Homo sapiens: one gene and its partner. The protein of the gene in region 2 interacts with the protein of the main gene of each other region in a pairwise test. Each region holds a gene or a part of one and is shown on either strand. Other genes may lie near its edges.

What was found. Proteins that work in one complex are often made in the same cells at the same time.
Region 1: the proteins of KIF26B (region 2) and MAP4K4 interact in a two-hybrid assay, tested with the Homo sapiens proteins (one large-scale study listed by BioGRID and IntAct).

The regions. Positions count from the first base shown.
Region 1 is NC_000002.12:101,696,207-101,699,806, reverse strand, and holds the start of MAP4K4 (mitogen-activated protein kinase kinase kinase kinase 4), read right to left. Parts: upstream 2,101-3,600; 5' UTR 1,727-2,100; coding exon 1,670-1,726; intron 1,543-1,669; exon of another isoform or gene 1,365-1,542; coding exon of another isoform or gene 1,335-1,364; coding exon 1,269-1,334; intron 1-1,268.
Region 2 is NC_000001.11:245,682,785-245,686,624, reverse strand, and holds part of KIF26B (kinesin-like protein KIF26B), read right to left. Parts: exon of another isoform or gene 2,393-3,840; coding exon 2,230-2,392; exon of another isoform or gene 2,174-2,229; intron 1,221-2,173; coding exon 1-1,220. UniProt on the Homo sapiens protein: Essential for embryonic kidney development. Plays an important role in the compact adhesion between mesenchymal cells adjacent to the ureteric buds, possibly by interacting with MYH10.

The DNA.
Region 1 (3,600 bases), on a different chromosome or scaffold from region 2:
GCTAATACACTTGAGATCACCTAAGAATACTGACCCAAGTTCGGACCACAGTCCAGTACAGTACACTACCCAGGCTAGAAGTCTAGGCTAAGGAGAGGCGTTCAAGTGATAGATAAACTCTACTCACAACGCAGAAAAGAGACAATAAGATCCACACTTAATCTAGCCTAAGAAAAGGTCTACAGTCGGCTTCCAACCCCCCCAACTCCACCCATTTTTAATGAGACAATGACAATTCTTCATGGTGAACCACAGAGCCCTGCTTCCCTAACCTTGTACCGACTCTAACAGAACACTCCCCCAGTGCAGATTAAACTTTTAGAAAACGTTCAGTATTGAGAAACAAATTAAGACAGGAAAAATTTAACATTCCGTTCTGAATTTTCAAGGCCTGCGCCTCCATTCCCTACACATCTTTCATAATCTCTAGACTGTACAATGTATAAAATGAACACTGTTAGTCACATCAGGTGTCAGCTACTCAGCGCAGACTCAGTCTCCAGATTTGCTAGTTTCATTTATCGCTGGGGTGGAGGGTGGGTGTTAAAATTTTGAAAAAAGAGAAAGACCTGGGTGGGTGTAAACCAGGGCATCCTCTATATTCTCTTCGCTCTCTGTCATTTCTGTTTCAATTACACAGCTGTCAAACAGGTTATTCCTGGAATTCAGATTTTATAATCCCCACACTGTAATTCTTCCTGCTGCTGTTGCCCAAACACACACTCCTCCCTGCTTCCCCAAAATACGTATCCATCAATAGAAAGGATGACAACCACAGTTATAAAGTATTCCCAGGTAACGCCAAACTCCCCACCTTGAGCAACTGGCAAGCACTGAGTGGAGGCTGAAACATGATGACAATTTTCACGATGGCCAAAGCAGTGGTTTAGGATCGTCAGAGGCAAGGCCCGCCTCCACTGTATTTCAATTTACACACAAACTCAGAAGGCCGGATTTGGGGAAAAAAAGAAAAAATTCAGGTTGTCTTATTTTTAAAAAATGCTTTTCCATTTTATCGAAGTAAAGTGCATGCCTAAGAGTGTAGCTTATTTCCTTATCTCAAAGCCAGGAAATGAGGTCTTTTAAGGCCAGTCTGAATATAAACTCGGTGTGCAAAAACAGAGGGACTGCAAGGCGAAAGAAACCCCTCTCCCAACTTTGGCCAAGCGGCGTGGCCTCCAGTCAGCAGCATGTTTATCACCCTCTCCTCGTCCCCCAATAAGAAGTTTCCACATGCCACGGGAAACAAAGAAGGCGCCCACACCGACCTTATAGACTTGTCCATAGGTGCCATTTCCAACCACTTCCACCAGCTCAAAAATCCCAGCAGGATCCTGGAGAGGAAGGAGGGGAGGGGTTATCATTTAAAAGAAGCCAAAAAAATGAATAAATCAAGCAAGGCAGTTGGAGAGAAAAGGCGGTGACAAAAGAGGTGGGCTTCGCCCCGCGCGGTCCCCCAGCGCCCGGGGGTCGCGCGGCGGGCTCGGGGCGTGGGGGCGGTAGAGGGTAGCGCCCGCCCCGCACCAGCCCGCACAGGAAGACAAAGGGGCCGCCGCGCCCCGCGGCTCTGCCCACGGCGGCGCCCGAGCGCCCGGCCGACCTGGGCGCGGCCCCGGCTGCCGGCTGCCGGCTGCCCGCTCCCCGCGCGCCCGCTCGCGGGCCCACTCACCCGCAGGGAGGAGAGGTCGATGTCCACCAGACTTTTTGCAGGGGAGTCGTTCGCCATTTTCCCTTTTTGCCACCAAAAAACAAATAACAATAAATGTCTCTGTCGCTCTGTGTATCTCAGCCGCAGACCAGGCCGCCGACCGCGCTCCTCGCGCGGCAGCCGAGCCGGCCCGGTACTCTCCTCGCGGGGCCGCGGGCGGCGGCGGCGGGCTCGGCTGCGCTCTCGGGCCGCTCGGGGCTCTCTGCCGGCCGGGCCGCGCGGAGGGCGGACGGAGCGTGCACGGGCGGCGGCGCTCACACCATGGCGCGGGGCCGGCCGTCAGGCCCCCGGGCGTCGCCCGCCGCCTCAGGCCCCGGCGCCCGCGCCCCGCGCCGCGCGCCTCGAGGACGGGCCCGGAGCGTGGGGCCGCGGCGGCGCCGAGTTGAGCGAGTGAGCGCGAGGCAGCGAGACAAAGATAACCCGGGAGGCGGAGGCGGAGGCGGGGAGCGAGGTGGGGAGGGAGGGGGCGGCGGCGGCGCTGGAGGAGGAGAAACGGGACACCAAAAATATATTCTGAGGAGAGAGAAAACAGCTCCCCCTTTCCTCCTCAGGCAGGAAAAACCGGCGGAAACGCACTCACACCCCGAGCCCTGCCGGGTAGGGCGCGGGCCGAGGCGCCCGCGCGGCGTGAATATTCATCAGGGGTGGGGCTCGAACAATGGCCGCGCCGGCGGGCAGCGCGGGCAGCGGTCCCGACACGACGCCCGGCGCCCAGGGTGCGGCCTCCGCGCTCGACCCCGCACGGCGCTCCCGAAAACTGCAGGAGCGGGGAGGAAGCGGGCTGGGATTTCCCCGGGGAGGAGCTGGGGTGGGGAAACGCCCCTACCTCGCGCTAACAACAAATGACACGAAACTGAGCTGGACCGACACTAAGAGGCCATGGACCCTCGCGTCTCCCAGGGCAAGGGTGTGTCCCGCCGGCCGCGTCCCGGCTCTAGAGGGACCCGAACCCGGTGTTGCCGAGCGGAGGAGGGGCCTCCCTCGATCCTCGCCCCCTCCTCGCCCCATTCGCCCCATCCCCCACTCTCCCACACCCTAGAGAGGAGACCCTTAAGTCCCTCGTTTCCGGCTTCCCTGCACGGTTTTCTTTTCCTTTCTCTGCTTTTGCAGGCTAAATGTGTGGTACGGTTGTGGTTGTAGTTGTGGGATTCGCTGAGCATCGCTGGGCTGCCCGGCCATATCCAAAACAGCTCCTGTAATTGTCTGGCGCTGCGCTCCTGGCTGCGCTCGGTAGGTGAGCACTGTGTTTGGGGCCCTTAGTACCAACCCGCATTTTGTAACCTGGAGATCACTAAGGATCAACCAACAGGTTTCTTCCGGCAACCTCGGAAGCCAGTCGGTAGTTAGGCACTTTAATGCCAGTGAATCAACAGTCATTTATATCGCATTCCTCCACCGTCCAAAAACTTTCAGTGGTTCCCTGTTACCTGACAGGTGTTCTCAAAACGTGAGTGCTTCAGGCAAAGTGCCAATTGCCTGGCCCTGCCTCCCGAGTTCTCGTTTCAGGAGGTCTGCAATGGGCCTGAGAATGTGCATGTGTAAGTTCTCAGTGTAGCTAACGTCGCTGTTACAGGGATCACTCGTTGACAACAGTGGCCTCCGGCTATTCATGATTGGATTTTCATAAACATCACCATCATCATCTACCAATTCTTATGCACATACTGTGTCTCCCCCACACAAACGCGTTGTGCCGAGTGCTTTACACACAGCACTCTATTTACAGCCTTGAAGGAATGTTATCCTCCTTTTAGGTAAGGAAAGCAAAGTACTGAAAGATAAGGAGTATGTCCAAATTCCTTAAAAGCACAGCCTGGAAGTGGAGCAGGGATTTTCACCAGGTTAGCCTGTTCCCAAAATCCAGATCTCTGATTCAGCCAAGTTAGCTCTAC
Region 2 (3,840 bases):
TTGAAGCTGATGATGCTGGTGGGGCGGCCGCTGTCCAGGACCCCGCTGATGGTCAGCTCCTCCACCAGCGTGAACACCAGCTCGTCCTCACCGTTCAGCTCCAGTGGCTGCTGCACCGTCACCATCGTGGTGCTCAGGATCTCCTTCTTGGACTCTGAAGGAGTAGCTGCCTGCTGCTCATCATCGACAGGAGTTTCCGGGAACCCTTCGCTCCCAGCAGACATGGATTTTTTCAAAACCTGGGGGCTCATTCCAACCGGGGGCGTACGCACCTCGGGCTGCAGCAAGGACTCCCTAGACGCCACGCCGGAATCCTTGCTCGAGGGAGGCAGTGGGGCGGGAGACGGCAGGACCCCCTTCTGGGTGTAGACTTTGCATCTCTGGGAAGGAGAGCTGGGTGGCTTGTACTCCGAGGTCTTGGACAGGCTGGCGATGCCCAGCCGGGGGGAGCCCATGGGCCTGGGCTTGCCTTCCACGAAGCCGCAGGAGTTGAGGCTCTCCCGGCTGCTCTGGAGGCTGGGGCTCTGCACGAGTGGGGAGGCGCTGTGCTGGCTACTGCTGCCCGGGACGCTCCTGGGTGAGGCCGGGCTGGGGCTGTGGGCGGGTGCCGCGGCGGGCACAGGTGAGTGACTCCTCTGCATCTTGGAGGCTGGGAGTTCAGGGCCTTCTCTGTTGGTCAGCTGACCTTCGGACCCATTATCTTCCTTATCAGACTCAGAGAGTGGGCTTGCCCCCGCTGCTTGGCTTAACCGGGGGCCTCTGCTTGCCTGCTCTGGCCCAAACTGAGCAGGCAGTTCTTCGAAAGGAAAGCTGCTGGGCTCCTCGCTGCCGTCGATGCAGTCCAGCCTCTCCTGCAGCTCGGCAAACGTGTTGCACTTCAGGCAGTCCCTTTCTGACTTGCCGGCTGCAGCCTCTCCTGCCTCTGCGGGCCGGCTGTCGCCCCGGGTCTTCTGCAGGGCTGGCACGATAGGGACAAAGTCTGGGGGGCCCTCGTTGTCGGTGAGCTCCTTGTCAGAGAGGGCCGTGCCGTTGGGCCCGATGTAGATGACGGTGTCGCAGGACTGCTCGCTGCTGGAGGAGTAGTCGGGGTCGCTGGACAGGTGAGCGATGGGGAAGTCAGGGTCCACCGTGGCCCTGGTGTGGAAGGGTCTCAGCTGGGTGGGCCTGCGCATGCGGCCTTCTTCGCAGGAGCTCTCCCCGCCGGACGAGCTGGATGTGTACTGTGAGTGAGACGGCAGTTAATGTGGTGGCCTTTCCGTGGCAGTTTCCCCGGGAGCCCAGCTGTGCGCGGCAAGTGGTGAAGGCCCCTGACGACACAGGCTACTGACAGCCACCCCCGTTGGCCTCCCGCACGTGGGCCACTCGGGGTGCCATGCCCGCGCGCCCGGTGTCACATCACCACTGCATTTGTGAAGGGGAAGCCCCGTGTGGCACGCTGGGGAAACAGCTGCTCAGGAAAGGGGGTGACCATCCAGGCCCTGCCTGACCAGCTAAGGGCTGCTGGCTCACCAATGTTTGGCACCCTGTGCCGTGGAACTCTGGTTAAGAAACGCTATTTAAAGATAAAAAAGGTACAAAACAGAGAAGGGGGAAAAAGGCCCCCACCTCAGCAGCTGCCCCTGCCACTGAGTGGCCACGATCATGATGGTTTTCTCAACTACTTGCCACCCTGCCACCATCCTGGCTTGGCCTCTGCCTGAGAAAATGAGCCCAGCGATGTCCAGCAGACTCAGTATCATCCAGAAACCACTGAATTGCCAGGACAAAAGCAGCAGCCAGGGAGTGACTCCTGGACATGCAGCAGGGGAGGGGCCCTGAGAGCAGGGAGTTGAGAACCTCTTTGGTGCCAAGCCTTCGAAGGACACAGTCTCCACCTACGCAGGACCGAGGCCATGCATGAGAAAAACAATATTTTCCATCCCTCCAACGTTTTTCCTCTTGAGGTAGCAATCCATTTGTACTCTCTAAAGCGGACCAAGTGCTTCCGGTCAGGGGTCCAGGCTGGGTGACCAGGGCCAGCACCAGGTGTGGGGAGGTGACATGACTTTGTATCAGCCCCAAGGTTTCCCTGCCCCAAAGTGGACCCTGAGCCACGTGTTGTCAGCTCCAAGTCACATCTCCTGATGCTGGGGGATTGGCAACGTTGATTTGGCTTTTTCTGACTCTGTTCCAGGGCACGGCTCCAAAGGCTCCCTCATCCACCACCCCCCCACCCCGCGAGCTCCTTACCTTCGTCTTCTTTTTCTTCATCCTCAAGACTCTCGATGCAATCTGGATGGTGGACAGGGTCTCCGCGTAGCTCCCGACCGCGGCCGAGATGTGCGCGATCATGGTGGTACGGCAGTTCATGTTCCCCAGAGACTCCCGCAGCAACATGGCGAGCTTGCTCTCTCTGCCAAACAAAGTGAATTAGGCTGCATTAGCGGCCATGCTTCCCTGTGGCCCTCAGGGCAGGGCTTCAGGCCTGCACACGGCCATTTTGTTGTGGGTGGTGGTCCCCCCACCCTTTTTAATGGCATACTAATTAGCATCATTTTCCAGCATGGGGCTATTTGTAGTTGGCAAGCACCGAGCAAGTGCTTCTAACTCCAAGATGGAATCTGTGCAAAGCACCTCCCTTGGCGCTTCTGTCCTGGCTGTGATGGGATGTTCCTGGGCGTGTGTGTCTGTGACATTATACATAATGAGGCCTGGGAATAGAAACAAGAGGAGGGGATCAGGAGAAAGGGCTCTGTGCCTGGTGACTCGGCTTGCTGACTGCACGTGTGGCCTTTCTCCAGGGTTTCCACACACAGACAATCTTGCAACAAAAAGGAGTCCCCCTGCCACGAACCTGGATTAAAGATCGGTGGGTTTTTAATACCTGCACAGTTCCTTTAGCCAGGAAACTGCGGCTACTTTATTGGCATTGTCCCTTAACTCGCATATTTGCACCTAGTAGCACTGAAGGAAAAGGCATTCATATTCCTGAAGACTAGGGGAGAAACACAGAGAGAGGCCCAGCCAGTCACTCTATCCACAACAGAAAGCAGCACTTCCTATAGAGAGGCCTCCTCTGGCAACTGTGCAGGTGCTGTGCGGGGCCACTGCCCTGAGTGGTGATAATGAGGCCCTGGGGTTTGCAGGGAGTGTTGCTACGTCTTTGAATAGACCTGGAGAAATGGCTGGTTTTCTGTTCCTGTACTCGTCCCAGCATTTTTCCTGCCTTGCTTTTAAAGGCCTCTGTTTATTTCATCAACAGCACTCATACTCTCAACTGCTGCCAAATGTCATTGCATCTCTGGCACGTTCCCTGATCCTGAAGGGCTGAGGAAGCCTATTTCCCATGCCGCGTGCTCATATCTCCATGCTGTGTCTGCGATTCCAGATGAGAGGAATTCGTCCCCATGTCCATGTCTCATCACCCATCCCCTGCAAAGCTCCCTGGAGAGGGACTATCCAGCTCAGCAGACACTATGGGAGACTCAGGCCACTGTCAGCAGAGAGCAGACCATTTTACACGTGACCTGCTTCTGGCCTCAGGGAGGGAAGACTGTGGGGTAAGAGCAATAGCTTTTCCTTCTCATCTGGGATCAATTAAGGTGTAAGTTTGGCGACGCTGGGCTAAAGCTCACTTCCAGAGCAATGTAAGAATATACCAGGGCTTCCCTTCCAGCAAAATGACCAGTGATGAACGTGGCGAGGTAAGGGATATAGAGGAGGAGGAGGAGGAGGAGGAGCTGTGAAAGTTTAACTCCTTCAGAACGTTATCTGTCTAGCAGAAACCCACGGACAGCCGCACTCGACGAGGAAGCCAGGCCCCATTCCTGGCACACATTCTTAGCAGAGACGTTGCACCTG